Regions from separate parts of the Homo sapiens genome. Here regions 1, 2, 3, 5 and 6 are each linked to region 4. The links come from fine-mapping of genetic effects on gene expression. A gene starts in region 4. Each other region holds a variant in brackets. All regions are shown on one strand. Distances are from middle to middle. Region 1 overlaps BAIAP2L1 (BAR/IMD domain containing adaptor protein 2 like 1). Region 2 overlaps BAIAP2L1 (BAR/IMD domain containing adaptor protein 2 like 1). Region 3 overlaps TECPR1 (tectonin beta-propeller repeat containing 1). Region 4 holds the start of TECPR1 (tectonin beta-propeller repeat containing 1). Region 5 overlaps BHLHA15 (basic helix-loop-helix family member a15). Region 6 overlaps BRI3 (brain protein I3).

Evidence for each region. PIP is the estimated chance that this variant, and not a neighbour inherited with it, causes the effect.
Region 1: its variant is fine-mapped to the expression of TECPR1 in whole blood (TOPMed, PIP 0.99).
Region 2: its variant is fine-mapped to the expression of TECPR1 in monocytes (CEDAR, PIP 0.95).
Region 3: its variant is fine-mapped to the expression of TECPR1 in whole blood (INTERVAL, PIP 0.97).
Region 5: its variant is fine-mapped to the expression of TECPR1 in whole blood (TOPMed, PIP above 0.99). The same link has a PIP of 0.9 or more in esophagus muscle, sun-exposed skin, thyroid, tibial artery and unexposed skin.
Region 6: its variant is fine-mapped to the expression of TECPR1 in whole blood (TOPMed, PIP above 0.99). The same link has a PIP of 0.9 or more in blood mononuclear cells.

What each region holds. Positions count from the first base shown.
Region 1 is chr7:98,302,802-98,306,801 of GRCh38, forward strand. It overlaps BAIAP2L1 (BAR/IMD domain containing adaptor protein 2 like 1), which reads right to left. Exons shown (of 14, transcript NM_018842.5): 11 at 3,638-3,715; 12 at 1,395-1,575. It also overlaps a transcript of BRI3 not described here. Among named protein-coding and RNA genes, the nearest start is that of BRI3, 23 kb to the left of the region's middle. RefSeq lists enhancers at 3,043-3,543, 3,544-4,000. The variant TCA/T (reference allele first, on the strand shown) is at 1,701.
Region 2 is chr7:98,354,713-98,358,712 of GRCh38, forward strand. It overlaps BAIAP2L1 (BAR/IMD domain containing adaptor protein 2 like 1), which reads right to left. Exons shown (of 14, transcript NM_018842.5): 3 at 330-416. Among named protein-coding and RNA genes, the nearest start is that of BAIAP2L1, 44 kb to the right of the region's middle. The variant TA/T (reference allele first, on the strand shown) is at 1,953.
Region 3 is chr7:98,220,225-98,225,206 of GRCh38, forward strand. TECPR1 (tectonin beta-propeller repeat containing 1) reads right to left here. Exons shown (of 26, transcript NM_015395.3): 18 at 4,782-4,878; 19 at 4,577-4,656; 20 at 3,438-3,494; 21 at 2,766-2,946; 22 at 2,162-2,297; 23 at 1,437-1,529. Among named protein-coding and RNA genes, the nearest start is that of BHLHA15, 11 kb to the left of the region's middle. The variant C/T (reference allele first, on the strand shown) is at 2,907.
Region 4 is chr7:98,249,820-98,254,801 of GRCh38, forward strand. TECPR1 (tectonin beta-propeller repeat containing 1) reads right to left here and starts at 2,413. Exons shown (of 26, transcript NM_015395.3): 1 at 2,307-2,413; 2 at 1,575-1,729. LOC124901706 (a long non-coding RNA gene) reads left to right here and starts at 2,540. Exons shown (of 2, transcript XR_007060448.1): 1 at 2,540-2,709; 2 at 3,065-4,982. RefSeq lists an enhancer at 2,060-2,803 and silencers at 2,120-2,509, 2,600-2,699.
Region 5 is chr7:98,215,379-98,219,810 of GRCh38, forward strand. It overlaps BHLHA15 (basic helix-loop-helix family member a15), which reads left to right. Exons shown (of 2, transcript NM_177455.4): 2 at 1-79. It overlaps TECPR1 (tectonin beta-propeller repeat containing 1), which reads right to left. Exons shown (of 26, transcript NM_015395.3): 24 at 2,558-2,664; 25 at 2,314-2,433; 26 at 1-2,125. The coding sequence ends at 2,012. Among named protein-coding and RNA genes, the nearest start is that of BHLHA15, 6.2 kb to the left of the region's middle. RefSeq lists an enhancer at 2,908-2,967. The variant G/A (reference allele first, on the strand shown) is at 1,745.
Region 6 is chr7:98,281,789-98,286,770 of GRCh38, forward strand. BRI3 (brain protein I3) reads left to right here. Exons shown (of 3, transcript NM_015379.5): 1 at 1-149; 2 at 563-665. The coding sequence starts at 8. Among named protein-coding and RNA genes, the nearest start is that of BRI3, 2.6 kb to the left of the region's middle. RefSeq lists a silencer at 50-389 and an enhancer at 4,283-4,982. The variant G/C (reference allele first, on the strand shown) is at 2,096.

The DNA.
Region 1 (4,000 bases), 52 kb after region 4:
TTTATGAGACAGGGTCTCTGTCATCCAGGCTGGCATGCAGTGGTATGATCACAGTTCACAGCAGCCTCGAACTTCTGGGTTCAGGCTATCCTCCCACCACAGCCTCCTGAACAGCTGGGACTACAGACATGTGCCACCGTACCTGGCTAATTTTTTATATTTTTTGTCTACATAGGGTTTTGCTATGTTGCCAGTTTGGTCTAAAACTCCTGGGCTCAAGTGATCCTCCTGCCTTGGCCTCCCAAAGTGTTGGAATTACACAGACATGAGCCATTGCACCTGGCTTCAAAGACATTTTGAATGAAGTTTCAAAAGCTAGCATTCCTAAACCAAATCATGCCAATGCAGTCTACAATGAGGCAGGTCTACGTTCCCAGACTCCTCAAGGCTCACGCGTAGGTCTGGGGCAGGCACATCTTAGAAGCACATCCGTTTCATATCATCAAGACACTCCACACCTGGGCACCACTCACAGCTGAACTAAGGCCCCGGACACAAGGTATAGGGGCCTGGCTCCTTCGCCCCAAAGCAAGACAGCTCCTGGAGCGAGGGGTGCAGACACCACCACCCAGCCTCCTCCCCTTCACCCACAGGTCTCACACCAGGGCGCACTAACCTCAGCCAACCCAGCCCGGGAGTGATGTCCAGCCGCGCTGCTCCCCACCACGCCATCACCTCACCTTGTGTTATTCTCTGCATGGCTTCTAGTGTCAGTGTTTTTGTTTATTTTTTATTGTCTGCTTCCTATCACTAGAACAGAAGTTCTGAAGAGGCAGGCAGAGTCCGGCCTTGTTCTCCTCTAGCTGGAGAGCCCACACCAGGGCCTCTGTGCGGTGGCGGGAATGGATGAACTGGTTCCGGGAGCCCAGGACCTCCATGCTGGGCCCCCAGAGGCACGTTAGGGTTATCTTTCAGGGTTATCGTTAACCCTAAACGCCGTGCCTAGAAGGTTTAGGGTTAAAGATAACATCCACAGTGCCTGGGAGTAAAGACTTTCTGAAGAAAGATGAAGTTACCACTTTTAATGTAAGCCTCTCTTCAGAAAATAAGAAAATGAAAGAAAATGGTGATTCAATGGCTAGAAGACTGCAGCCAGGCAGGAAAGATAAGAAACCTAATAAAATCTAGCAAACTAGAGGCGACTGTGTGTAAACTCTCACTGACAAGATAGAGTCCACATGAAAGAAGGGCTGAAGTCAAGGAGGTGAAAGGCTGCATGACAAAGAAGGGAATCTAGAGGATCAAAGGCAGCAAGTCCCCTCCTCCCTCCTCCCCGGGGACACCACTCTCCCCCTGGGGACAGAGCAGAGCAAGGCGGTCACCACAGGACCTGCGCCTCCCAGTCGGGGATGGCGAGTCCAGGACCCAGGACGCCCTGCTGCGGCTTTACTCACAGGAGCCGCGGTCTCGGGCTTGGACGCTGGGGCCTTAAAGGTGGATGTCGTCCTGGCCGAATCTGCTCTCCTGTCGGCAGCTGCCCCCATGGACAAGCATTCCAAGTAGTCGGGTGGGGGGATGACAACACTGCTATTCTCAGACAAGTTCACGGTGCTGATGCTTCTCACTGGTGTGGGGCTCAAACCCAAAAAGGACACAGCACGTGTTAGATAATGTCTCACCACCAAACCCCAAACATCCTCTGTGTCCCTGACCAAGGACAACAGTAATAGTACATCACCAATCAAAACCTGATCTTGATC[TCA/T]CACACACAGACACACACAGTACATATATCAATACAAAACACTGTATTTTTTAAATTTTTTTGCGACAGAGTCTCACTCTGTCACCCAGGCTGGAGTGCAATGACATGATGTCAGCTCACTGCAACCTCTGCCTTCTAGGTTTAAGTGATTCTTCTGCTTCAGCCTCCTGAGTAGCTGGGATTACAGGTGCACGCCAGTGTGCCCAGCTAATTTTTTGTATTTTTAGTTGAGATGGGGTTTCACCATATTGGCCAGGCTGGTCTTGAACTCCTGACCTCAGCTGGGATTACAGCATGAGCCACCACACCCGGCCTAAAACACTAATGTTTTTAGTGGTTTCTAAACATATCCTCACAAGAAATTTTTTTTTTTTTTTTTGAGATGGGGTTTCCCTCTTATTGTCCAGGGTGGAGTGCAGTGGCGCGATCTTGGCTCACTGCAACATCCGCCTCCCTGGTTCAAGTGATTCTCCTGCCTCAGCCTCCCAAGTAGCCGGGATTACAGGCGCCTGCCACCACGCCCAGCTAATTTTTTTGTTTTTTGTTTTTTTTTTTTTTTTTTTTTTTAGTAGAGACGGGGTTTCATTATGTTGGCCAGGCTAGTCTTGAACTCTTGATCTCAGGTGATCTGCCCGCCTCGGCCTCCCAAAGTGCTGGGATTACAGGCATGAGCCCCTGCGCCTGGCCAAAAAATTATTTAAAAGACATGACAAAAGGAGAGGAAACCTTTTAAATTAGGGGCTGGCTCTTGATTGATTTAATCTAAGGAAAGAAATTGGAGACTAGCAAAAGCTGGAGTGAGCAATGAGCTAAGAGTTAAAAAAAAAAAAAATGTAAACACTTGAAATTTTAACATCCTAAAAGTGTTACTCAGTTTTTGTTCCCCAGCACAATGGCATTTTAGCTCTTCTGCTAGGGATGAAGATTGCAGACAGCATCAGACCCTGGGGAATGCAACGTCGGACCTGGAGGCCTTCTACCTGGCTAGCTGGATGGGTTATGGGGGTTCTGTGAACTTCGATCCTCCCGCCTCAGCCTCCAGAGTAGATGGGACAATGGGCATATGCCACTATGCCCTGGCTAATTGTTTATTTTTTTTGTAGAGATGGGGATCTTGCTATGTTGCGCAGGCTGGTCCTGAACTTGTGGCCTCAAGTAATCCTCCTGCCTCCATCTCCCAAAGTGCTGGGATTACAGGCACAAGCCACCGTGCCCGGCCAGTTTCCTCATTTTTTAAAGTGGGGGCCCACCTCATGGGTCTGCTGTGAGAATTAAGTGAAAAAATCAATGCAAAGTCCTTTGGACAGTCTCTAGGCAATAACTACTGTTAGTATCTGATCTGGAATACGGATTTGGGGGTTTTCGGCATGGAGGTGCTCAGCAAAGCCCATCAGTGTATTTCAAGCCATGGGAGTGGATGAGATGGCCCAGCACAGGCAGGAAGGATGGACCCAGGGTGACTCCCAAGAACACTGATGTTTAATTGATGGGCAGAAGAGGGGTGCAAAGAGCTGGTGAGGCAGAAGACAAACAGAGCACAGGTCAAGCAGCCGGGGCCAGAGAACATTCCAGAAAAAGCATACAACAGCGTTAAGGGCTGTAAGATAAGAACGGTAAGATAAGTGTAAGATAAGGACGGAAAACACATGGCTTGGGTTTAGCGACCAGGAGGGGCAGGGCACAGGGAGGGAGTTTCAGAGGGCTGCAGGACTGCGAGGAGTAGGTGGCCTGGGCTGGGTCTCCTCACAGCAGCAAAGCTCGGGGACAACAGAAATCACGGCAGACAGCACTGTGAGCCGCGGTCTCATCTCTGACTAGTCCACGAGAGCTGAGGCTTAGGGCAGGGCCTGCGACACAGCTAGATGGTGGTGTGTTACAGAAACGACAAGGCAGGGGTTTCTGTCACCGGGAGAGCTCAGCCACGTTCAGGGCTACCTTGGCGTGGGCACGGTCACTGCTTCTGTCTCATTTTCTTCCAGCAACTTCGTGTACGACGACGGGAACCAACCCCTCCTACCGGCAAAGAGGGAGAAAAGACCCTATCAGCAGTAGACATGTGGACGGCAACCTCCCTGAACAACCTGGTGAGAGCTCAGGGCAGACAGGTCCACTGCTCCAGAAACGCCCATGTGTGGAGGAAATGAAATTAAGGCTTTTAATAGGTAAATATGGACTTTCACATACACTGAACAATGTGTATTGTTAACAATTTTTTTTTAATAGAGACAGGGTCTCGCTCTGTTGCCCAGGCTGGAGTGCAGTGGTGCGATCATAGCTCACAGCAGCCTCGAACTCATG
Region 2 (4,000 bases), 100 kb after region 4:
CCCGAGGCCCCAGGAGGCCCGGCTCGCCCATCAGGAATGTAGGTCAAACTCCCAGCGGGAAGGGTGAGAGCCCAGGCACCCAGGGCAAAAGCTCAAGTTCCTAGGAGAACAGGGAGGCTGGCCAGAAAACAAGGCCTCCACTCGCCCTCCGGCACCAGTCCCAGCCCACCCTACGACTAAGCATCAATTTCCACAGACCGCGGTGAAGTAGAACCACAGCATGCTGGCCCAGATCTCTCCTCTGTTCTGGACTGGGCCATCCCACGCGTTTCTCTTGGGGTTCACAGGATGACAAGTGGGGTTTATGTATAAAGGGACAGATCGCTCACCCAGTTCAGTTGACACGGGGGACCCAGTGGCAATCTCACCGATCTTGGCCACTCCATCGTAGTAGGCTTTTCCTGCCAGGATCATAGCTAGACACAAAAGGTGACACACAAAATCGTCACTTAGACAAGGAAAGGAGGAAGCAACACAAGTTTTCTTCCAAACACCCCCTGGTCCCTTCTGGCTGCAGGAAGGTTTGGGCTGTGGCAGGTGTGGCTCTCAGGAGGTAAGACCTGTGTTGAGAGTGGTGCCGGGGTGGAGGCCCTCCAGCCAAGGGACAGCCCCATGAGATCCTCGTCTCTGACCAGCCCCGGGGAACCTTCAGCAGCAGGTGCTGAAAGTCCAGAGAAGGCTCAGCTTGCTCCTGATGCCAGTTTCAGAGTGGATGCGTTCCTAACGTTGAACTAGGGCTTTGCCTGGGCACGGTGGCTCACACCTGTAATCCCAGCCCTTTGGGAGGCTGAGGTGGGAGGAGTTTGAGACCAGCCTGGGCAACATGGTAAAACCCCGCCTCTACAAAAAAAAAAAAAAATACATAAATTAGCCAGGCATGGTGGAGTGTGCCTGCAGTCCCAGCTACTTGGGAGGCTGAGGTGAGAGGATCGCTTGAGCCCAGGAGGCGGAGGTTGCAAGTGAGCCGAGATCATGACACTGCATTCTACTCTGGGTGACACAGCCAGATATTGTCTCAAAAATAAATATAAAAAAAGAAGATACATCCTCTCCAGCCAGAAATCTTTTCTGAGCTAGTTCTTCTCCAGCACTCCAGGTCTGCAACATTCTTAGTTAGGAGTTGTGTGAGGTGGACTAGGAGCCTGGTCCTTTGATGGCAGTGCTTAATTTTTCTATTGAAAAAGGCATTTTGAGCCACAACCAACCAACCTATTTGTTGCCAGGAGAGAATATATGAAATTTGAAATATATTATCATTCCAAAAAGCAACACAATTGTCTGAAAAAATAACTGAATGCTCTACTTTTTCTTTTTTGGCAAAGACAAGAAAACTTTTATTGCTACAAGGTGGGTTCTAATTATCTTAAAAATAGTACTGCCCCCTTCGAACTGATTCTGAAGACTAAATTATAACTATGTAACCTCCAGGGGCAAATTACTTACCCTTTCTGAAACAAAGGTTGCTCATCCTTAAAATGCCCTAAGAATGTGAGTGACAGATGAACAAATGGAAGCTGCTAATACACTTTTTTCACTTTACAATCTAGGTTTGAGGGTATTGAAGATGTATGATAGAGACCCAGCCTGGTTAGTGTAATTTTGGAGAAAAGCATTTATTTGGAATTTTACTCTAAGATTGGTTTCAGACATAGAAATCAGTTTCTCCTGGAGCTTTGGAGACCACACAGTTTTGGAGCTAAAAGAGCCCTCGGGAATCCCAGAGGCTATACCAGCTGCAATGCCGCAATGTATAATGGGCAATTGTTTTAACAAGGTGGATTTTATTTTATTTTATTTTTTTAGAGGCAGAGTCTTGTTCTTTCACCCAGGCTGGAGTGCAGTGGCAAGATCATGGCTCACTGCAGCCTTGACCTCCTGGGCTCAAAGGATCCTTCTGCCTCAGCCTCCCAAGTAGCTGGGACTACAGGCACGTGCCACCATTCCTGGCTAAT[TA/T]AAAAAAAAAAAAAAAAAAAAATTGAAGGGGCTGGGTGCAGTGGCTTACACCTGTACTCCTAGCATTTTGCGAGGCTGAGGTAGGAGGATCACTTGAGCCCAAGAGTTTGAGACCAGCCTGGGCAACATAAGGAGACCCCCCCATATCTCTACTGAAAACAAACAAAAAAAACTAGCCAGGCATGGTGGTGGTGGCACACGCCTATAGTAGTCCCAGCTACTCAGGAAGCTAAGGTGGGAGAATTGCGTGAGCCCAGAAGGTCAAGACTGCAGTGAACCACAACTGTACCACTGTACTCCAGCGTGGGCAAGAGTGAGGCCCCTGTCTCAAAAAAAAAAAAAAAAAAAAAAAAAAATATATATATATATATATATATATATATATTTTTTTTTTTTTTTTTTTAAGAGTAGGGGTCTCACTCTGTTGCCCAGGCTGGTCTTGAACTCCTGGGTTCAAGGGATCCTCTTGCCTGAGTCACCCAAAGTGTTTGGATTATAGTTGTGAGCCACAGAATTAATTCATGTGCAGGTCCAGCTGAAGGTATGAAAAGCCAAAACAGTAGTATATTTTTTCTGGCACATTAATCTACTTTAGGATTTATTGTAGAGTTAAAAATTTATAGCCAGGTGCTGTGGCTCACACCTGTGATCCCAGTACTTTGGGAGGCTGAGGCAGGAGGATCACGAGGTCAAGAGATTAAGACCGTCCTGGCCAACATGGTGAAATCCCGTCTCCACTAAAAATACAAAAATTAGCCGGGCATGGTGGCACATGCTTGTAATCCCAGCTATTCGGGAGGCTGAGGCAGGAGAATCGCTTGAACTCGGGAGGCAGAGGTTACAGTGAGCTGAGATTGCGCCACTGCACTCCAGCCTGGCGACAAAGTGAGACTCAGTCTCAAAAAAAAAAAAAAAAAGTACATATATATTTATATATATATAAAAGTTATGGTTTTTACCATATACATATCCAACTTTAGGAAATGCAATATTCTATCTACTGCACTATTATAAGACTCAGAACAACCTTAAAGTGTAAATGTAAAAAGAACAATAGCAATTAGCATTTATATACATACTTAGTTAATCTATCCAATTATGTTGAGACACAGTCCGTAATGTCATCAGCCCGTTGCGCTAAGGGCAGCGGAGTGGAGATATTCTGGGACATACCCAAGGTCAATGTTGAGTCAGCGGGAAGGCACACAGCTCTGGCTGGGCACTTCACTTCCTCAGCTCTAAATTATGGTGCTTTCTGATTCTTTGGTCTCGTCTAGAACTAAGAAAGAAGTGACTCCACCTAAAAACAAGGTGTGTAGCCAGGAAACTGTCAAGTTGTAAGATGGAACATCTTAGTATGAAGATGTTAAGTTGTAAAGTACTGATCATCTGAAAAGCAAATTAGTGCGGGAATGGAATGCAGGATTACACAATATTTAAGCAAAATGTTTGGTTTGCATCCACACATGAAATCACAATTTTTCATTAATTGTTGACTTACATTGAAAACCATGTAACCTTCTCGGTCTTGTAAAATATCTTTGCTATGATGATAAAGTTAAATTAACTTGAAAATTATAAAATTTAGCCAGAAGAGATAAATAATACTTTCATAATTTTGCCTCCCTTTTGTGAGCACATTAAGATATTTTCTACTACTTATTGTTTTAAGGAAAGAAGCATATTAGTTTTTTGTTTTTTTTTTTTTAAGAGTCAGCGTCTCACTCTGTTGCCCACACTGGAGTGCAGTGGTGTGATCATAGCTCACTGCAGCCTCCACCTCCTGGACTCAAGCCATCCTCCCACCTCAGCCTCCTGAGTAACTGGGACTACAGGTGCACGCCACCACACCTAGCTAATTTTTTATTTTTTCTAGAAATAGGGTCTCACTATGTTGCCCAGGCTGGTCTTGAACTCCTGGGCTCAAGCGATCCTCCCACCTCAGCCTCCCAAAGTGCTGGCATTACAGGCATAAGCCACCATACCTAGCATAGTTCTATTTTAGTGGTTGGCCAACTACTTCATCAGTCTAGACCAATCTATGTAC
Region 3 (4,982 bases), 30 kb before region 4:
TCCCAGCTACTTGGGAGGCTGAGACAGAAGAATCGCTTGAACCTGGGAGGCGGAGGTTGCAGTAAGCCGAGATCATGTCACTGTACTCTAGCCTGGGCAACAAGAATGAAATTCCGTCTCAAAAACAAAAAAAAAATTTTTTAACGGTACATTTTACTTTATTTATTTTTATTTTTATTTTATTTTTTGAGACAGAGTCTTGCTCTGTCACCCAGGCTGGAGTGCAGTGGCATGCCTTGGCTCACTGCAATCAATATCCTCCTCCTCCCAGGTTCAAGCGATTCTCCTGCCTCAGCCTCCTGAGTAGCTGGGATTATAGGTGCGCACTACCACATCTGGCTTTTTTTTTTTTGAGACGGAGTCTCGCTCTGTCACCCAGGCTGGAGTGCAGTGACGCAATCTCGGCTCACTGCAAGCTCCGCCTCTGGGGTTCACGCCATTCTCCTGCCTCAGCCTCCCGATTAGCTTGGACTACAGGCACCCGCCACCACGCCCAGCTAATTTTTTGTATTTTTAGTAGAGACAGGGTTTCACTGTTAGCCAGGATGGTCTCGATTTCCTGACCTTGTGATCCGCCTGCTCCGGCCTCCCAAAGTGCTGGGATTACAGGTGTGAGCCACCGCGCTTGGCCTAATTTTTGTGTTTTTAGTAGAGATGGGTTTCACTAAGTTGGCCAGGCTGGTCTCAAACTCCTGATCTCAAGTGATCCGCCCACCTCAGCCTCCCAAAGTGCTGGAATTATAGGCATGAGCCACTGTGCCTGGCTAATGGTACATTTTAAAATAACTGAAAGAGGGCCAGGCGCGGTAGCTCACACCTGTAATCCCAGCACTTTGGGAGGCCGAGGTGGGCAGGTCACTTGAGGTCAGGAGTTTGAGACCAGCCTGGCCAATATGGTGAAACCCCGCCTCTACTAAAAATATAAAAATTAGCCAGGTGTGGTGGTGCGTGTCTGTAATCCCAGCTACTTGGGAGGCTGAGGCAGGAGAATCGCTTGAACTCAGTAGGTGGAGGTTGCAGTGAGCCGAGATTGCACCACTGCACTCTAGCCTGGGAGACAAGAGCGAAACTCCATCTCAAAGAAAAAATAATAACAATAATAACTAAAAGAGTAGAATTGGATTGTTTGTAACATAAAGGCTTGAGGAGGTGGATACTCCCTTTACCCTGATGTGATATTATGCATGCATGCCTGTATCAAAACATCTCATGTACCCCATAAATATACACACCCACTCTGTACCCATAAAAATTAAAGTTTTTTTTTTTTTTGAGATAGAGTCTCACTGTGTCATGCAGACCATGTTGGCCAGGCTGGTCTCGAACTCCTGATCTCAGGTGATCCGCTGGCCTCGGCCTCCCAAAGTGCTGAGATTACAGGTGTGAGCCACCATGCCCAGCCAAAACATTAAAAATTTAAAAAAAGAGCAACTTGCCATTCTCATCCAGGGCATACACCGACGTCTGCCCCGCGGACACCTGCTTCAGCCTCTGTCTCGGTGGGGACGGGATGTGGTACCAGCAGTCACCTGCGAAGGGGAGGCTGACTCAGGCACGCTGCCTTCTCCTCCTTGCATGGGCCAGGTGGGGCTGTGGGCCTCGGTCCCCAGCTGCCTCTCGGATGTGTAGCCTGGTGTCAGCTGTGTGCCACACAGAGCTGACACGTGCCCTGCCGTCCACCCAGCACTGTGCCTGGGGTCTCTGGAAGCCATGGCGGGCTCCGATGGACTCATCTTGCCAGCGCAACACAAAGGCTTCCTGTGCAGCTCATGGTGGAGACCCAGCCTCAGGGGCTGCCCTGCTAACCCATCCCTGTGCAGAGGGCAGCTGAGTACCAGCGTCCCCGTGTTGGACACTGGACATCTGGAGAAGAACAAGCCAGCACAGCCCGTCCTCCCGGGCAGCCACCAGATTGGTCACTGTGGAGTGGACCCTGCAGGGCCGAGACACAGGGGCCACCCCAGGAAGGGCCAGGCAGGCCTGGCTCCAGCTGCCCCATTACCAGGGTGACCACCTCCCAGTCAGTCCCAGTGGGAGGGGGACTCCCACTTCTGGGGGAAGTCCCAGCTTCTGGGGGACCCTGGCCCAGAGGGGATGTTCAGCAAACATCAGCTTGGACGGAAGGTGAACACTGCAGGGGCTCCTGGGGCGCGGCACTCACCGGCTGGCTGCGAGGGGTACACGGATCCCCGGTAGAAGGCGGAGCCGTCCCTTGCCACGGCCCACACCTGGTAGCAGGCCCCGATGGAGATGGAGGCGAAGGGCTGGTCGGTGCCAACGTGCAGCCAGGAGGAGCCCTGGGGATAGCAAGGAGGGGCGCTGAGGTCACCAGGGCCCCCACCCCCAGGGCCCCACCTCCAGGACCAGCAGAAATGGGCCTAGCGCGTGGGCAGCATAGGTGGCTGGGGGACAGCCGGGAGTCACACAGCCCCACCCGGCCTGATCTCGGTGCTTGTTGAAATCCTGGGCGCATCTCATCCTCCTGCGAGCAGGGAAAGCGCCCCCGTGGGCGTGTGCACCTCACCGGGGTGCTGACCACCAAGGACTGGGTGCCAAAGAGCCGCAGTGTCCCCTTGGCCCACCTCTGTCACCCCCGCCCCACCCGCCTCATTCCTGGGCCAACTGCCCCAGGGCACAGGGACCCACTCGGACCACAGGCAGTGTCCACTGGTCCTAGGGGCTTGTCCTGAGCAGGGTCTGAGCCCTGCCGGACTCCAGAGCAAAGGTCTCATTTCAAGAAGAATCTGTCTGGCCCCGGCACTCACCGCAGGGTTGAGCTCCGACACGCCCAGGCGGCACAGCACATCCCCCTTGTCGCTGACGGCCCAGAGGGCGATGCTGTGCCCACTCCCCTCGGCACCCGGGCTCTCCGGGATGATGGACACGTCCCTGAGGGCGATGGGGGG[C/T]ACCTCCAGCCAGGGCCCACTGGTCACCAGCTTGCATTTTCTGTACAGTGGAGAGGGGACACAGCCCAGGGACCCCAAGGTGACCACCAGGCTCCAGGGCCTCTGCCTCTGGAGCCAGGAGGAGGAAAGCAGCCAACCCCGGGGCGGGTAGAAAGAGGGGCCCAGAGGTGGCCTCCTCCCCACCCCCACCCCCATCCAGGCCCAGCCAGGCCCCCACCCCCACCCCCAGCCCCAGCCAGGCCCCGTTCTCTGTCCCGCTCACAGGTGGAGTGTGCCAGTGACATTTCTCTTATTTGTTCATGAAAACAAACTATTCTGAAACCAGAGAGCACCGGGAGCCTGCGGGCATTTCCTGGGCTGACATTTACTCAGATTCGGCTTCCCTCTTCACCCTACTCCCCACTGCTTCTTCCCTTGGGACTGAGGTCAGAGGCCAGGAGATCTGGCCCGGGGTGCAGGGAACCAGAGCTCCCTCAAGGGTGGCTCCTCCAGGAGCCTGACCGTGACAGTCACCCTGCAGCCCTGCCTCACCTGGCCCAGCACCTCCTCCTCACAAAATCCTTCATCGTTTTGGACCCATGGTATGAGCTGCAAGGAGGAAGAAGATGAAATCAGGGCCACTTCGTGGAAGTTTCTGGAAAGGGACCGTGCATGTAAACATTCTTGTTCTACCCGTTACAGGGCATGGGGACTGGGTGGAAGCCATGGATGGGGTTCAGAGAAGGAGGTGTCACCACGCGCGGCTCTCAGGAGGCGCTTCCTGGCTGCCCCGGCAGGATCAGGGTTGAGTGCAGCCCTGGGGACCTGCAGGGAGGGCCTCCTGGGGGTTGGGGCCTCCCAGGGGCAGGGGTCTCCCTGGGGAAGGGGGTCGGGCCTCCCTGGGGCTGGAGCGGAGCAGTCACTTGTCAGGGGTCAGGCTAAGGGGACTCAGCCCTCCCCTCCCCAGGCCCCATCAGAGCCCTTTTGGGGAGCAAGAGCCCTCGGTCAGGATGAGGCCCGAGGCTGAGCGGAGGGTGGTCCAGGAGGCCTGGCTGTGGCCGAGGGGACGGTCCTGGTCTGCTCAGAAGCCACCTGGCTCTGGGCCCCAGCTCAGGCTGTCCTGGCTCCATCTTCCAACAGGCTGAGACTGTGCCGTGAAGGGCCTGCCCACGCCGTGCACCTGCACCGCCAGGGTCCAGGGCCTCGTGACAGCCACTGCATCTCTCCGAGGGGCTCACACTGCCCCTTCACCTAACATCTCGTGTTGGGTCCCTCAACACTAAGGGCCTGGCTCAAAGCCCCCCAGAGCTCACCCTGCTAAGGCTGTAGAGGCCACTCGCCCTCCTCAAGCCCCTCAGTCTGGTGCCCTGGGTGCCACCATCTGACCCTCCCAGAGCCCGTGCCTGGCACAGCAGGGATGAACGTGGCGTGGGGGAGCCATGGTGCTCCTACCCGTGCCACACATGGAGGCCAGGGGTGCCACGTGTGCAGGGAGCACTCCCCTGGGCCCCTCCTGGCCTCTCTGCTGGCTCCTCCCCCTCCAGTAGCAGGGCTGGCACCAGGGGTCTGCTCCTTGGCCAGGCCTAGGGGGCAGGGTTCAGCCTGGAAGAGCAGTGAGGCCAGAGGCCACACACTCCAGGGCCCTGACATTCAGGACCCAGCCCGAAGGCCCTGTGCAGGGAGAGGCTTACGCAGGGAAGTCGCTGGCATACTGCCACCCCTCCTGGTCCGTGCCCCCCGGAACGCTGAAATCCACGAACCAGTCGGAAACCTGGGAGGAGTGGGTCAGTGAGGATGGGACCCCCCGAATCCAGAAGGCAGTCAGAACACTCGAGGAGGGGCAAGGAGGGGTGGGAGGGCGGATTCCCAACCCCCCAGGGGGCAGCGGGACCTCACCCAGGCCCACTGCAGGGACGGGGGCTTCGTGCCAGCCTTCGTGCACTCCTGCAGCCCCGAGGCATCGCTCCACATGTACCGGTCCGTGGGCAGACCCCTGCGGCAGGACAACAGGGCAGGTGACGAGGGAGACTGGGGAATGAACTGGCTCACTCAGACACCCCCATAACACCCCACAGGGAAGCACCGAGCTCCAGTCTC
Region 4 (4,982 bases):
AGGCAGGAGAATCGCTTGAACCTGGTAGGAGGAGATTGTAGTGAGCCAAGATCGTGTCACCACACTCCAGCCTGGCCAACACAGCAAGACTCCATCTCAAAAAAAAAAAAAGAAAAACAAAAAACCAAGTCCCTTTCAGGTCTGAGTCTTCAGCCTCTTCATTTCCATAATAGTCTCTGCACACAGTGGGTGTTGAAACAACATTTAAGGATAATCACCACCACCTACCTCCAACACACTGCCAACTCCCTGATCTAAGACAGAAATACTTCTCCAGGGAAAACAAATGCCACAAATAACTTGAAAAGTAAGGTCATAATTGGTGGACAGATATGTGATAAAGCAAGTAAAGTGTCAATAGTAGAATCTAGTTGGTGGGGATGGGGATGCTGACTGTATAATTCTTTCAACTTGGCTGTATGTGGGAAAATCCTCAATAAAATGCTAGGGGAAGACGAAGGTTTTTTTTTTTAATTGTCACTTTCTATAGTGTTAAATATAAGTTAGCCTTCAAAGATAGCTCAGAGGCCAGGTGCAGTAGCTCATGCCTGTAATCCCAGCCCTTTCCGGGGCTGAGGTGGGAGGATCGCTTGAGCCGAGGAGTTCAAAACCAGCCTAAGCAACACAGGGAGACCCCATCTCTGTAAAAATAAAAAGTTAAAAAAAAAATTAGCCAGGTGTGGTGGCACATGCCTGTGATCCTAGCTACTTGGGAGGCTGAGGCAGGAGGATCACTTGAGCCCAGGAGTTTGAGGCTACAGTGAGCTATGATTGTGCCACTGCACTCCAGCCTGGGCAGCAGAGCGAGACCCTGTCTCAAAAAGGAAAACAAACAACAACAACAACAACAACAAAACAAAGATAGCTCAGAATTCACTGGATAAGCAAGCAGTTTAGCTAGACTCAGTCTGCAGGTTGAGCTCAATGAAAGGAGATTTTGACTTTCCTTCAAATAAATGACTAAGCACTAATTTCCTCATAGACATCATTGAATCTTCTGGGCAGTTAATGGGAGAAGACTCTGCTACAGTGAAAGGGAGGGGTGGGGGGTTGCTGTATTTACAAACTCCCTTCAGAGTAGAGACCCAGGCACCTGTCGTCACTTCCTAGCTACAGTTGACATCCGGTAACCATCCTTGGTCAGCCACACTTTCTTTCTGCCTCTGCCAAGAGGCTCCCCCTAGCTCCTCATGGGCCACTTTCTGGCTGTGAGCTGATCAGGCAACTTACACAGGGTCACTGGGTCAGAGGACTCTTGAAAGGGGGGTTGGAACATGAAGCCCCATGATTCAGGGATCCTGGGACTTGTTTGTTTTGTAGGGTTAGAGGGATGGAGGAAAATCTTCCAAATCAGCAGCCTCGAATTCACCAAGAATTTCTACAAGATGAATTTGAGTTGAACCTTCAGTCTTTCCACGAAGAAGGTCTGCTCGCCACCCTCAAAGCCATCTGCCTTTCTGTCTCAGTTTATTCACAGATCCTTTCAGAGACCAAAAAAAGCACCCAAGAGAGGCGGGGACAGAGATGTGGTAGAGGAAAAGACACAGTACAAAGAACGCTCCGCAAGCACTTACTTCCTCTGAGCCTTAGGAGTCCTACCTAAAAGGTTTCTTGCTTGTTTTTCTATTACACTGTCACTCCCATCCGGTATGCAAACAGTCGGCAATGCCTACTACAGTAGCTCGCTGGCTGCCAGGTGCAGGGGCTGTTCAAAAGCGACATCAGGGTCCTAAAAGGTGGGAAAAAGCAGCAGAACTTGCATGGTAGTTGATTCTTTCCTGAAGAATAGGGTCCGCCCAGCCCCACCGGGCAGGAGGTGTCCTGAGTCAGCCTGGCGTTCAGCCCAGTGCTGTGCACTTGGGTGACAGGTGGGGCCCCTGCACTGCCACCAGTAGCATATGTCGGAGCTCTGGGCCCTGACCATCTGCCAAAGCTAATCTTACGACAAGCAGATTTGCTCCCATCAATACCCAGGGAGAGGGATAGGCAGGCCCCTTGCTGCGTGATTCTCGAAAACAACCAGGATCCCGCGATCCGCTTCTCCTATGGCTCCAGTCCAAAGGCTGGAATGGGGGCGTCACCTGCACCAGGCAACTTCGCTAGCCTGTGGGCGTTCCAGGGCAGGGGACGGGGGCGGCACCTTCCAGGTGTGCAGGCGAGATGACAAGTGCGGTCCCTCCTTCCTCCCTCCCCGCGAGCAAACAGCCTGGGGGTGGTGGGGAAGGCGGCGTGCCCAGCCCTTCATCGCCCCATTCTTTCCCACGGCCCTGGCCGCCGCTGCAGCTGGGGCGCCACTCTGCACTCACCTGGGCCCGCGCCGGGCGGGGCGAAGTCGCGGTGGTAGGTCCTCGGCGTCCGGGAGGAGCGGACCGGCCCTCCCGGGGACCGGGCAAGAGGGTGGGCCGGAAGCGGCATCAGGCCCCGTGCCCATTGGCCAGCCTCGCCAGGACGCTGCGACCTGGGACGTGCGATTGGCTGCGGTGCGCCGCGTCGGTGCTGGCTTCGAGGTCGCGCGCCCGCCCACTTCCGGGGTCGCGCCAGGTCAGGAGTCCAGAGTCGGCTGAAGCGAGTTGCCGCGTTCTCTCTGGCGGCGCGACACCGGCCCGTGGACCGCCCGGCCGCCCTCCAGGACCCGGTCTGCAGGAGCGGAGAGGGCGGTGTGGACACCGCCTGCAGGCGAGGAGAAGGGGTGGCGGAGAGGGTACCTGGGTGCGTGGCTGTGCGGCGTCAGGAGGAGCAGGGTGTGGGCGCCCGGCCTGGGGCGTGGAGAGGACGCAGGGAACAGGTGTCTTCCTGGTATCCATCGAACTGAAACGTAGCCCTTGAGCACACACTACACTTAAAGCTTTACTCTTTCGAGGAGGAGTCCTGGAAGCATATGTGATTTTGTGACTATAGCATGGTGTGGTGTCAGTAACAGGCCCTGGATTGCTCAAACTCTATTGTCAGTGACAAAACCCAGTGTAAGCTGGCCTAATATATTAATAGTAATATGCGAGTCCTCCCGGGGTGGCGGGCACTGACGTAAGTGCTTTACTTGGGTCTTCTCATTTCATCCTCCCAGCAACCCAAAGAGCTGGCGGCGTCATTCCCATTTTACAAATGCGAACACGGGCTCAGAGATGGAGCGACTCACGTTGTAAGCGATGGAACTGGGATTTGAAAACACTGTATCCCGCCTGGCAGAAAACTGGCAAGGTTAGGATGGAGAAAGGAGAAAAAAGAAAGATGTCGGCCAGGTGCGGCGGTTCATACCTGTAATCCCAGCACTTTGGGAGGCCAAGGCGGGCGGATCACTTGAGGTCAGGGGTTTGAGACCAGCCTGGCCAAGATGGTGAAACCCCGTCTCTAGTAAAAATGCAAAATTAGCCAGGGGTGGTGGCGCATGCCTGTAATCTCAGCTACTCGGGAGACTGAGGCAGGAAAATCGCTTGAACTGGGGAGGTGGAGGTTGCAGTGAGCTGAGATCGTGCCACTGTGCCACCGCACTACAGCCTGGGCGACAAGAGCAAAACTCCTTCTCAAAAAAGAAAAAAAAGGGCATCTGATGGAAGGCTAGATACTACCCGACATTGAGCTAAACCAATGTCACCTGGTTGGACCTAGGGACCTATTCCTGCTCCCCCTCTAGTTCTGTCTCATTTCTGGGGTTGCACACAGGCTTTTCCTGGGCCTTCATGTTTGGGGAAGCCCCACACAGGCCAGCTCCAGTGGAAGAAAACGCCCCCAGAAGCCTCTTGTTCACCCCGGATGGCTCTGTGGAGTCCTGTGTCTGACCCTGACTTTAGCTTGGGCCTGAGGGACTGGCATTTGTGGACTTGGTCTGGAGATGTGGGCAGAGCCCCCCTCAAGCATAAGGGCTCAGCCAGGCACAGGGGGTGGCTCCTCAGAGGAAGATCAGGGTGCTATTAGCAGAAGGACGATGAGTGGGCCGGGCGCAGTGGTTCACGCCTGTAATCCCAGCCCTTTGGGAGGCCGAGGCGGGTGGATCATGAGGTCAGGAGATGAGACCATCCTGGCTAACATGGTGAAACACCGTCTCTACTAAAAACACAAAAAATTAGCCGGGCGTGGTGGCGGGCGCCTGTAGTCCCAGCTACTCGGGAGGCTGAGGCAGGATAATGAGGTGAACCCAGGAGGCGGAGCTTGCAGTGAGCTGAGATTGTGCCACTACACTCCAGCCTGGGCAACAGAGCAAAACTCTGTCTCAAAAAAAAAAAAAAAAAAAAAAAAGGAGGATGAGTGGTCGCTAGACTGCTGGAGAAACAGTCTAGAGGTAGGGAGCCCTGGGTTCTGTCCTGCCTGTGACACTCTGTAGCCATTTATCTCCTCTTTAGCTTTAGTTTCCACATTAAAAGAGGCATTGAAAAAAAATGAAAAAGAGGCATTGAATTAGGAGCTTTCTGTGGCCCCTTGCAGTTTTCATGTGTGGTGACAAAGTTCAATATAGTTTTCCTGAATTCAGGGGCTTGGGGACCCATGTCCCCCTATCCCGAGTTCTTTTTTTTTTTTTTTTTTTTTGAGAGGGAGTCTCACTCTGTCACCCAGGCTGCAGTGCAGTGGTGAGATCTCAGCTCACTGCAACCTCCACCTCCCAGGTTCAAGCGATTCTCCTTTCTCAGCCTCCTGAGTAGCTGGGACTACAGGTGTGTGCCACCACGCCAGGCTAATTTTTTTATTTTTAGTAGAGACAGGATCTCACCATGTTGGCCAGGCTGGTCTTGAACTCCTGACCTCAGGTAATCCACCCATCTCAGCCTCCCAAAGTGCTGGGATTATAGGCGTGAGCCAGCATGCCCGGCCAAAAGTTTGCTTTCTTTTGAGTCTGTGATCAGCCTTTCACTGAATACACAATTTACATGTGAGAGTGGGTAGAGGAATAGTCACATATGCCTTACTCACTGTCTGGCTCAGTGAATCTGCATTTTGTATAAACAATAGGACAGAGGAAGAAATCACATATGCATTTGTCTTCAGTGAGC
Region 5 (4,432 bases), 35 kb before region 4:
CCTTTCAAAGTATTCATGAAATTGATGCTGTGTCATAAAACAAAAATAAAAGATTTCACAGCAATGTCTGCTTCAGGCACACGGGGAACCACGCGTTTTAATCAACGTATCGATAAAAAACACCAGGGCACGGACACTCCAGGGGAAATGCTTATTGAGTAAAGTATCCGAGGAAGTGATGCAGGGCAGGTAAACAGCTGGTGCTCAGCAGCGAGAGGACGCGTCACTCTGCCGTTCTGCAGGGTGACGCCCTCCCCGTACCTCGCTGAGAGCCACCTGCAGACACAGCAGGCCACAGCAGAATGCACAGGTCACTGTTGTAGGGGAACAAATCGTAATGCCCAGAGAAAACCTGATAGTGAAATGTAAACAGACAGGACAGGGTGGTTCCAGGTGGCCACCACCGCCAGGCCCTTCCCGTGATTGATCTGAGAGCTTCACAGCCGGCGGCACTGGGACCCATTTCCAGAAACACTGGAACACCAGGTCTCTCAGATGCCCGCGGGAGGGGCCCCAGGGAGGCCTTTCTCAGCATCAGCTTTTGGGTGACAAACCCCATACAGCAAAACTGTACAAATACACACAACGGACCCCCAGCTGACAGTGAGACCAGGACCCTAGGAAGGTCAGGTGGTGGTGAAGTCATCCCCTCTCCAACCGAGCAGAGCCTGGGGTTGGGCTCTGATGACCTCCCGGGCAAAGTGTCCAGGTGGAGGAAGCAAACTCCCAAATGGGGCACAGAGGTAATAAAAAGCAGCTGAGAGACTGCGGGATGGGGTCGGGGCCACTTGGCCGACACCTTCTGCCTCGCCTGGCCGGGCCGGGCCAGCCTCTCGCCACAGGATGGAGGGTGACTGTGCACCCTGCTCCATGTACAGGACGGGCTGAGGGTCCCATGGCCACTGCCGACAGACACAGTAGTACTGCTCCCCACAGAAGCCCGCAGTCTGCACCCTCCTACAACATGATTTGACATCCAAGAAGCCCCTGTCACCAGCGCATCTGGGGAAGGGGCCGAATGGGGGTTGATGATGGTGACTGCACACACGGACACTGCCTCCAGCCATGGGGCAGCCTCTCATCCTCTCCCAGCCTCCCGTCTGGTACCCCGGCCCCCTCAGGGAAGAGGACATCCCATCCACTCCAGTGTTATTTCCAATCTGCTGTCTCCTTCCTTCACTTTTTTTTTTTTTTTTTTTTGAGATGGAGTCTCTGTCGCCCAGGCTGGAGTGCAGTGGCATGATCTCGGCTCACTGCAGCCTCCGCCTCCCGGGTTCAAACGATTCTCCTGCCTCAGCCTCCCGAGTAGCTGGGATTACAGGCACCCACCACCATGCCCAGCTAATTTTTTTTTTTTTGTATTTTTAGCAGAGATGGGGTTTCACCATGTTGGCCCGTCTGGTTTGAAACTCTTGACCTAGGTGATCTGCCCACCTCAGCCTCCCAAAGTGCTGGGATTACAGGCGTGAGCCACGGCGCCTGGCCTCCTTCCTTCACTTTTGAAATTAAAGCCTCTTTGCAAGTCCTGCTCTGAGAAATGGTCACTGCACATGGTAAAGAGGCCCTGAGCCCCATGGCCATCTCTCTTGGTGAGGGGTGGCGGGCCCGGGTGCTGTCTGAGATGCCAGCTCAGGAGGGCTCCATCCTGGCTCTGCTGCCCCAGGGCCGGCGTTCCCGGAGGGCTCCAGGTTCCCGGTTCTAGTCCTGGAAAGGCAGAAGGGAGAGGGGAAGGGAAGGGTGGGAG[G/A]GGCCTCTGGGAGGTGCAGCCCCACCCCATGCCCCACACCCCGGGACTCCTCGCAGACGGGGACACGTGTGGGAGTGTCCGCGGAGCTTCACATTTCAGGGCCGTCTCAGCCAGTGCCTCTGAAGTGGCCGCAGCCTTGGGGCCAGGTTCCCTCCTGAGTCCACCTGGGCCACATTGCTCCCACGGTGCACACTCCAGCACAAGAATGGCTCAGCCTTGATCCCCCAAACTGGGCACCGTCCCTGCATGTAGGTGTGTGGGGGGGCCTCAGCAGCAGACGGGGCCATGGGCCTCTGGTGGGGCACTCGGCTCCTGCTCCTGGGACGAGCTCCGGGGGGCCCTGGTGGCATTGGCCCGGACAGAGATATGGTCCCAGCCTCCCTGGAAGGAGAGAGCTGTGTCACCAGGGGACTCGGGGACTCGAGGATCCTGGAGGGGATCTGCCTGGGGGCCTCCCTGCAACCCAGACACCGGGTCCCAGGGGACAGTCCCACAGTGGTCGTCCCGTCTTCAGCACCCAGTGCAGGCACAAGGTGATAACACAGCCCAAGGCCGCGGGCCCCGCTCACCCCGATGCCGTAGTCCCAGCCGTGGCCCTTGGGCTCGTGAGGCTGCACGCCGGTGCGATGACACACTGTCCCCCGGCTCAGGCTGTGGCTGCCCTGCACTTTGTTGGCGATCACCCAGACCTGGAGCACAGACCCCATGAAGCCCTCAGCCCTACCTGCAGTGGGACGGCTGGGCATGGGATGGGGGAGACCAGAGAGGGAACCAGAGCACCCCAAGTGCCCGATACCCCCTGAGCACCCCCACCTGGTCCAGGGGCCCCACGGACACTCGGCACACGTTGTTGGACACGTGCTCCCAGCTGGAGCCCTGCGGGTAGCTGGGCGTGATCCCTTGGCGATACCACAGGTTTCCTGGGGAGAAAAGCAGTGAGGGTCAAAGGGGAAGACCTTCCCGGCCCCTCCTGCCCGTGCGGCCCGGCAGCCGGTGGCCAGGCCCCGCTCTAACCACTTCGGGGTTTGGGAAGCTGCTGGGGAGGCAGGAGGGTCCTGGCCCCTGAGTCAGGGCCACAGCCTCCTCCGCTTCTCCACACTCAGGAGCCTGGGCTGCAGCCAGCTCCGCCTTCTGCACACTCGGGGCGTCCCCCGAGCCTCATAATCGCCCTATTGTGCTGGGCACGGCCGGCCTCCTGATCCTCTTTCTGCTGAGGCAGAAACTATGGACAAGGGAAGTCCTAGCCAGAGCAATCAGGCAAGAGAAAGAAAGAAAGGGCATCCAAATCGAAAAAGAGGAAGTCACGGTGTGTCTGTTTGCCCATGATAGGATCAAATACCTAGAAAACCCTAAAGACGCCTCCAAAAGACTCCTAGATTTGACATATGAGTTCAGGAAAGTCTCAGGTTACAAAATCAATGCACACAAATTAGTAGCACTGCTACATGCCAGCAGCAACCAGGCTGAGAATCAAATTAACCCCTTTTACAACAGCTGCAAAAAATAACATAAAATACCTGGGAATGTACTTAACCAAGGAGGTGAAAGATCTCTATAAGGAGAACTACAAAACACTGCTGAAAGAAATCATAGATGACAGAAACAAATGGAAATACATCCCATATTCATGGATTGATGAGTATGGGATGAATCAGTGGAAGAATCAATATCATGAAAATGATCATACTGCCCAAAGCAATCTACAGATTCAATGCAATTCCTATTAAAATACTGTCATCATTTTTTACAGAATTAGAAAAAAAAATCCTAAAATTAATATGGAACCCACAAAGAGCCTCAATGCCCAAAGCAATTCTAACCAAAAAGAACAAATCTGGAGGCATCACATTACTGGACTTCAAATTATACTACAAGCCTACAGTAACAAAAACAGCATGGTGCTGCTATAAAAATAGACACATAGACCAGTGGAACAGAAGAGAGAACCAAGAAATAAAGCCAGATACCCACAACCAATTGATCTTTGAGAAAGCATACAAAAGCATAAACTGGGGAAAGGACACTTTATACAATAAATGGTGCTGGGTAAACTGGATAGTCGCATGTAGAATAATGAAACTGGATCCGTATCTCTCACCATATTAAAAAAACAACTCAAGATGAATCAAACACTTACATCTAGACCTAAAACCATACAAATTCTATAAAAAAAACCTAGGAAAAACTATTCAAGGGCTTTGCCTGGGCAAAGGATTTCTGACTAAGATTCCAAAAGCAAATGCAACAAAAACAAAAATAAAGGAGCCCTAATTAAACTAAAAAGTTTCTGCAGAGCAAAAGAAATAATCATCAGAGTAAACAGAAAACCCACAGGATAGGAGGAAATATTTGCAAACTATGCAACTGACAAAGGACTCATAACCAGAATCTAGAAGGACTCAAACAAATCAGCACACACACAAAAAACAAAAAACCAATAATCCCATCCAAAAGTGGCCAAATGACATGAATAGACATTTCTCAAAAGAAGATATGCGGCTGGGCGCGGTGGCTCATGCCTTTAATCCCAGCACTTTGGGAGGCCAAGGCAGGCGGATCACCTGAGGTTGAGAGTTCGAGACCAGCCTGACCAACACAGAGAAACCCCATCTCTACTAAAAATACAAAATTAGCCGGGTGTGTTGGTGCATGGCTGTAATCCCAGCTACTCGGGAGGCTGAGGTAGGA
Region 6 (4,982 bases), 32 kb after region 4:
GGCCGCCATGGACCACAAGCCGCTGCTGCAGGAGCGGCCGCCCGCCTACAACCTGGAGGCCGGCCAGGGCGACTACGCGTGCGGCCCGCACGGCTACGGCGCCATCCCCGCCGCGCCCCCGCCGCCGCCCTACCCCTACCTCGTCACAGGTGGGCCCGTAACCAACTTTCCCCGCCGGCGGCTTCCGAGGTGGCAAGCCCGGTCGGGGGACGTGGGTCCGGAGGCGGGTGGGGCCCGCCCGGGGGTCCTTCCTGGAGCTGGAGGTCCCCGGGCTGGCTTCGGGACCCGGCGCCGCCGAGGGCCAGCCTCCCCCCCGGGGCTCTAGTCCTCGGGCCCGTCGTAACCCGGCGGGGCCGGATCCCTGCCCCAGATGAACTTTGTGTCACGAGGCGCTCGCTGTTGGCAGATTAGCGCCGAATCAGGCCCGCGGTGGCCGTCCCGAGGGTGGAAAAGACCGGGGGCTTTTTTAGCGGGGTGGAGGTTGAGGGGACAGGATGAGTAGTCCCCGTGGCGGTCCGATTTCTCCTCCCTGCACCCTAATGACCTGCTTTCCCGCCCACAGGGATACCCACCCACCATCCCAGGGTCTACAACATCCACAGCCGGACCGTCACCCGCTATCCTGCCAACTCTATCGTGGTCGTAGGAGGCTGTCCTGTCTGCAGGTGAGTGGGTCTGCAGCCTGGGGACTGGCCCTGGAAGCTCTGAGGACCCCCGCCCTAACCCCCAGGACCTCACAGCTCTGCTTGTGGGAGTGGGTCCGGCTTGACTTGGATCTTGACCAGAGCCCTTTATGGGAGGGACAGACAGGCTGCCCGAATGCGGTGTGGGAGAGTGCGGGTCCGCTCACCCTTGGCTCTGAACACATTTTGTGGGGGCAAAAGGGTGGATTCCTTTTCCTAGATCTTGGGGCATTGCACCCCAAGTGATTGGGATGTAGAAATGGTAACAACGGGACTCGTGGTCCTTTCGTCTTTGTTCTGGGACTTGCAAGGAATCAGGTGTCTGCTTTTTCCTTCACTTTCCGCAAGTTTACTCTGCAGTTGATCGTCGAAGGTGGTGGAAGGTTTCATTTTCCCGGAAGGGGCATTTGGAAGTAAGTGCACCAGCAGGACAGACCTCAGTGGGAGAAGCGACGGCCGTAAGAGCTGCTTTATCCAAAGTTGGCTTGAAACGCTCTTCCACGAGCTGGACCAGGATGGAAACCCCGTGTTTCTTTGAGGCAGGAGTTATTTTTTTCATATCCTCGCATTGGACCTGCACACGCTTTTTGGTTTTTATAGGGCCCCGAGGTGCAGCTAGAGGCTTGTTTTGTGGAGGTTTTGAGGATTCACATTTAAATAAGGATTAATTAAATATAAACCCTTGGCAGCTGGGGGTGTTCAGATTGCTTAGAAAGTAGGGGCAGAGTTGGCCGGGACAGGGTTTTCAGCTGTGTCTCGGAGGAGGAAGTTGAAGCCACTGAGATGGAATTAAGAAACCCTGGTTTGGACTTAGACTTGATTTCAAAAGTGTGTGTGTAAGGCCTAGAGTGGAGTCACGGGGAAGTGAGTGATTTCAGAGCCTTAGCAGGCAACTTCCTGGGAAGGAAGGGCAACCTAGAGGTGGGGACAAGAGGCTGGGACCTCGGGGGCAGGTTGTGGCTGCTTGCCTGCACAGGGACCCCGTGACAAACCCTAACTGGGACGTCAGTTTGACACAGTTGGTCACCACCCAGCAGAAACATTAGCCTTTGGAGTGAAGGTGGAGGGAGGGCAGGGTGGGGCGCTGGCTGCCTTCGGGACATAGTTCTCTCCCGGAGCTGCACCGGGTTGGGGGGCTGGCAGAGCTGTGTGAGTGTGAAGGCACATGGAGGGGACTCAGAACATGGAGGAGCAGAGGGTCTGCCTGCGTGTCATTGTCCATGCCCTGCCATCCCGGTGTCCAGCCTGCCGGAGGAGCCGGGTTCCGGTCCTGGTCCTGCCAGGAACAGCGGGGCTTGTTTCCCCACCTGGGACGTGGGGGTGTCTGGTGAGGTGTCTCTGAAGCTCTTAGCTCTTCTCTGCCCAAACCCCTGAACTTGGAGAGGTGAGAGACCAGCGGCAGCGAGGGATGG[G/C]CCAGATATCCCAGGGCTGGGGGGCGCCGAGGTGGTGGCGCAGTTGCTGTCGGTATGGGGGCACTGGCCCTGCCACTTCCCCTTCCCTAGGTGGGAACTGTGTCCCTGCGGAGGCCCATGGCTTCCGCTAACCTGGAGGTGCTCTCCAGTTATGCAGAACCTGGAGCGGGGTCAGACTGTGCTCTGCTGGGAAGGATCTTGGGCTCGGCCCTCAGAGGCTGTAGGGGTGTGGGGTCCTTGGTTACTTAATCACTGCTCTCTGCCTCTGGGCAGCTGCACCAGGCAGGGTGGAGGCTGGGTCCTCTCTGGACAAGGTTGGGGGGTCCTTAGTCCTTTAAGTTGGGACCAGAGCACTCTTGGATCCTGCGGCGACCCCTTGGGTTGCAGCCAGGCCCTCCCAGCACACACGTCCCTGCGCTCTGCCCGTGGTGCCTTGGATGCTGGAGAGTGGCTCTGGCTCCCCGAGGCTTTGCCTCTGCAGCTGCATTGGGCATGGGATGGGCCCCTGTGCCCTGTGGCAGCCAGAGGGCGAGCAGGGGGCTGGGTGCTCTGCTGCTGGCGTGGGTGGGGTGTGTGGTCCCTGGGCCACTCCTCTCTGCGAGGAGAGTGGAGACGGTTCCCTGAACACACAACACACACGTCTGGCCGCTGCCTGGCGTCTTGGCCCGGGAGACAGGATACCACTCACATGACCACACTTCCTCCTGCCCCAGGTCCAGCCCGCCGGGCTCTGTCCCCCTCCCTGCCTGGTGGCATGGCAGGAATTTGCCCAAGTCACACATCTGTTAGTCCTTCTGAGTGAGGCTTGGCCAGAGAAGCCCGTGTCCCTTGTGGCTCTGCTGCCCTGGCCAGGCCTTCGCTGAAGCTGCCTGACTCCATCTTCCCTTTCTAGCCGTTTATGAGGAAGCATTTCCGCAGCCTGGCGGCGGATATGTCCCTGCTCCTCCCACCCTCCTGCTTCACCCCTGCCCTGCCCTGCCCTGCCCTGCCTTGCCCTGCCCAAGGCCTGGGCCTCCCTGAAGCCAGGTTCTCCCTTGCCCAGGGAGGCCAGTCATTCTTTGCTGGGGGTGTGGTTGTACCTAGGTGCAGGATGAGGTAGCTGCGCTGGGAGGCTCTCCTGGGCTGGAGCAGAGCCTGCGTCCTGCAAGCGGGGAAGGCAGGAGTGGGGAAGGCCCCTGGCCTGCACCAGGCCCCCATGAGTACTGGCTGGGCTGTCACTGGGTATTTAGTTTTGGGGGTGACCAGAGAGAGAGGAAATCCTGGAAAGGATTTCACTTTTCCTAGGGAAGGTGAAAAGAACAGCTGTGGAGGGCGGATGTCGCTCAGAGGTCCAGGGTGCGGCTCAGTGGCCAGCGTGGAGGCTGCCACGGCCCTTGGGGGGCAGAGGTGGGCTGTGGAGGGCACGGGGTGGTGACTGTGGAGCCCGGGAGGGGCTGGAGGGGAAGGAGCCTGTGACAGCCTTGGGCTTCCAGACGATGGAGGTGGAGGGGCTGCTCCCTCCTACCACCTGTGACCTGGAAGCCAGAGCTCCCCTGGTTGAGGAAGTGGCTGAGTTAGCTGGGATGGCTCTGCCCATATGTATGGCCTGTGGGCTGTCCCCGTCCTGACAGTCTTGGCCTGAGGTGTGGGGGCAGCGGATGGGCCGGAGCTTGGGCCTGGGCTGCTTGCTGGGCAGGGCTGCAGACCTCGGTGCCCAAGTGCTCCCTCAGTGGCCTCCTGAGTCTCTGACCTTGGGCTCAGCCCCCAGCTGTGGGCCAAGTGGCACTGCTGGGGTGGGTGTGGTGGCAGGCAGAGTCTCCGGGCACCTTCTCAGGCCTTTCTTCCACAGGGGAGGCGAGGGCTGGCCCTGGCCATTGGGTTTGCTGGGAATGGCCCTGGGAGGTCCTGGTGAACTGTCCCTAAGCCAGGCAGCTCCCCTGTGGGGAGTGGACACCCTGGGACAGCCAGAGCCTGGCTGGAGCTGCTTTGGGGCCACCTCGCCCTGCGCTGAGCATGGCTTCAGGCCCTCAGCCCTCTGAGGAAGCCCTGCGTCTCCCCTTTTCCTGGCGAGGCCTGGCCTTCCAGCGGGGTGGTGGTCTGGGGTTGTTCCTGGGCGTGGATGGTGCCTTGAGGCCACCATGTGCGCAGAGGGCAGCTTGGTGCCCTAGGGCCAGCCCCCTGTGACACTGCCTTTGGGGGCTACCTGGGAGGGAGAACTGGGACCTGCAGGATGGGTGCTCGTGACTGGGGAGCCCATCTGGGTTCAGATCCCAGCCACGCCTTTCCCGGCTGGGAGTCCCTGGACACACCCTCAGCTTCAGCCTCCTGTAAAGTGCCTGTGGGGACACAGGGAGGGCGAGGATGGCCTTCTCCCTGGGCAGCTCAGAGCCCTGCTGCCAGCCCCCTCTGTCCTTGGTGAGGCGGGAGCCCCGCGGCCTCTACTGTCCCAGGGCCCAGCTCTGAGTGGATGACAGTGGCATGACTGGCCACTTTCACTGCAGGACTGGAGTCGCCTTAAGGGAGTGCTCTTGGAATTAGTCAGTTCCCTAATTTCGCCAGTGGCCATGGTCCCTCCCTGGCCGCGTGGCTTATTGCACAAGAATGGGGGAGGGGCGGCTAGAGAGAGCCGGTCAGGACCAGAGCGGTTGAGAAGGTTGAAACCCACCTCACCAACTCAGGTGGGCTCTTCCGGGTTTGGAAGGGAGGAGAACTCGAGGCTGTGGGGACCGCAGGTGTTCCGGGGCAGGGGTTCCCCTTCTGCCCTCCAGTGCTGGGGACAGGACTGCCCTGCAGCTTGGGGAGTCTTGACCTAGAATCTGGATTGTGTTTCTCAGTTCAGAAGATTTGGGGTTTTAAAAAGTAAATGATGCCAACACTCCTTTTGAGGTCTAGGGCAGTACTGCAGTTA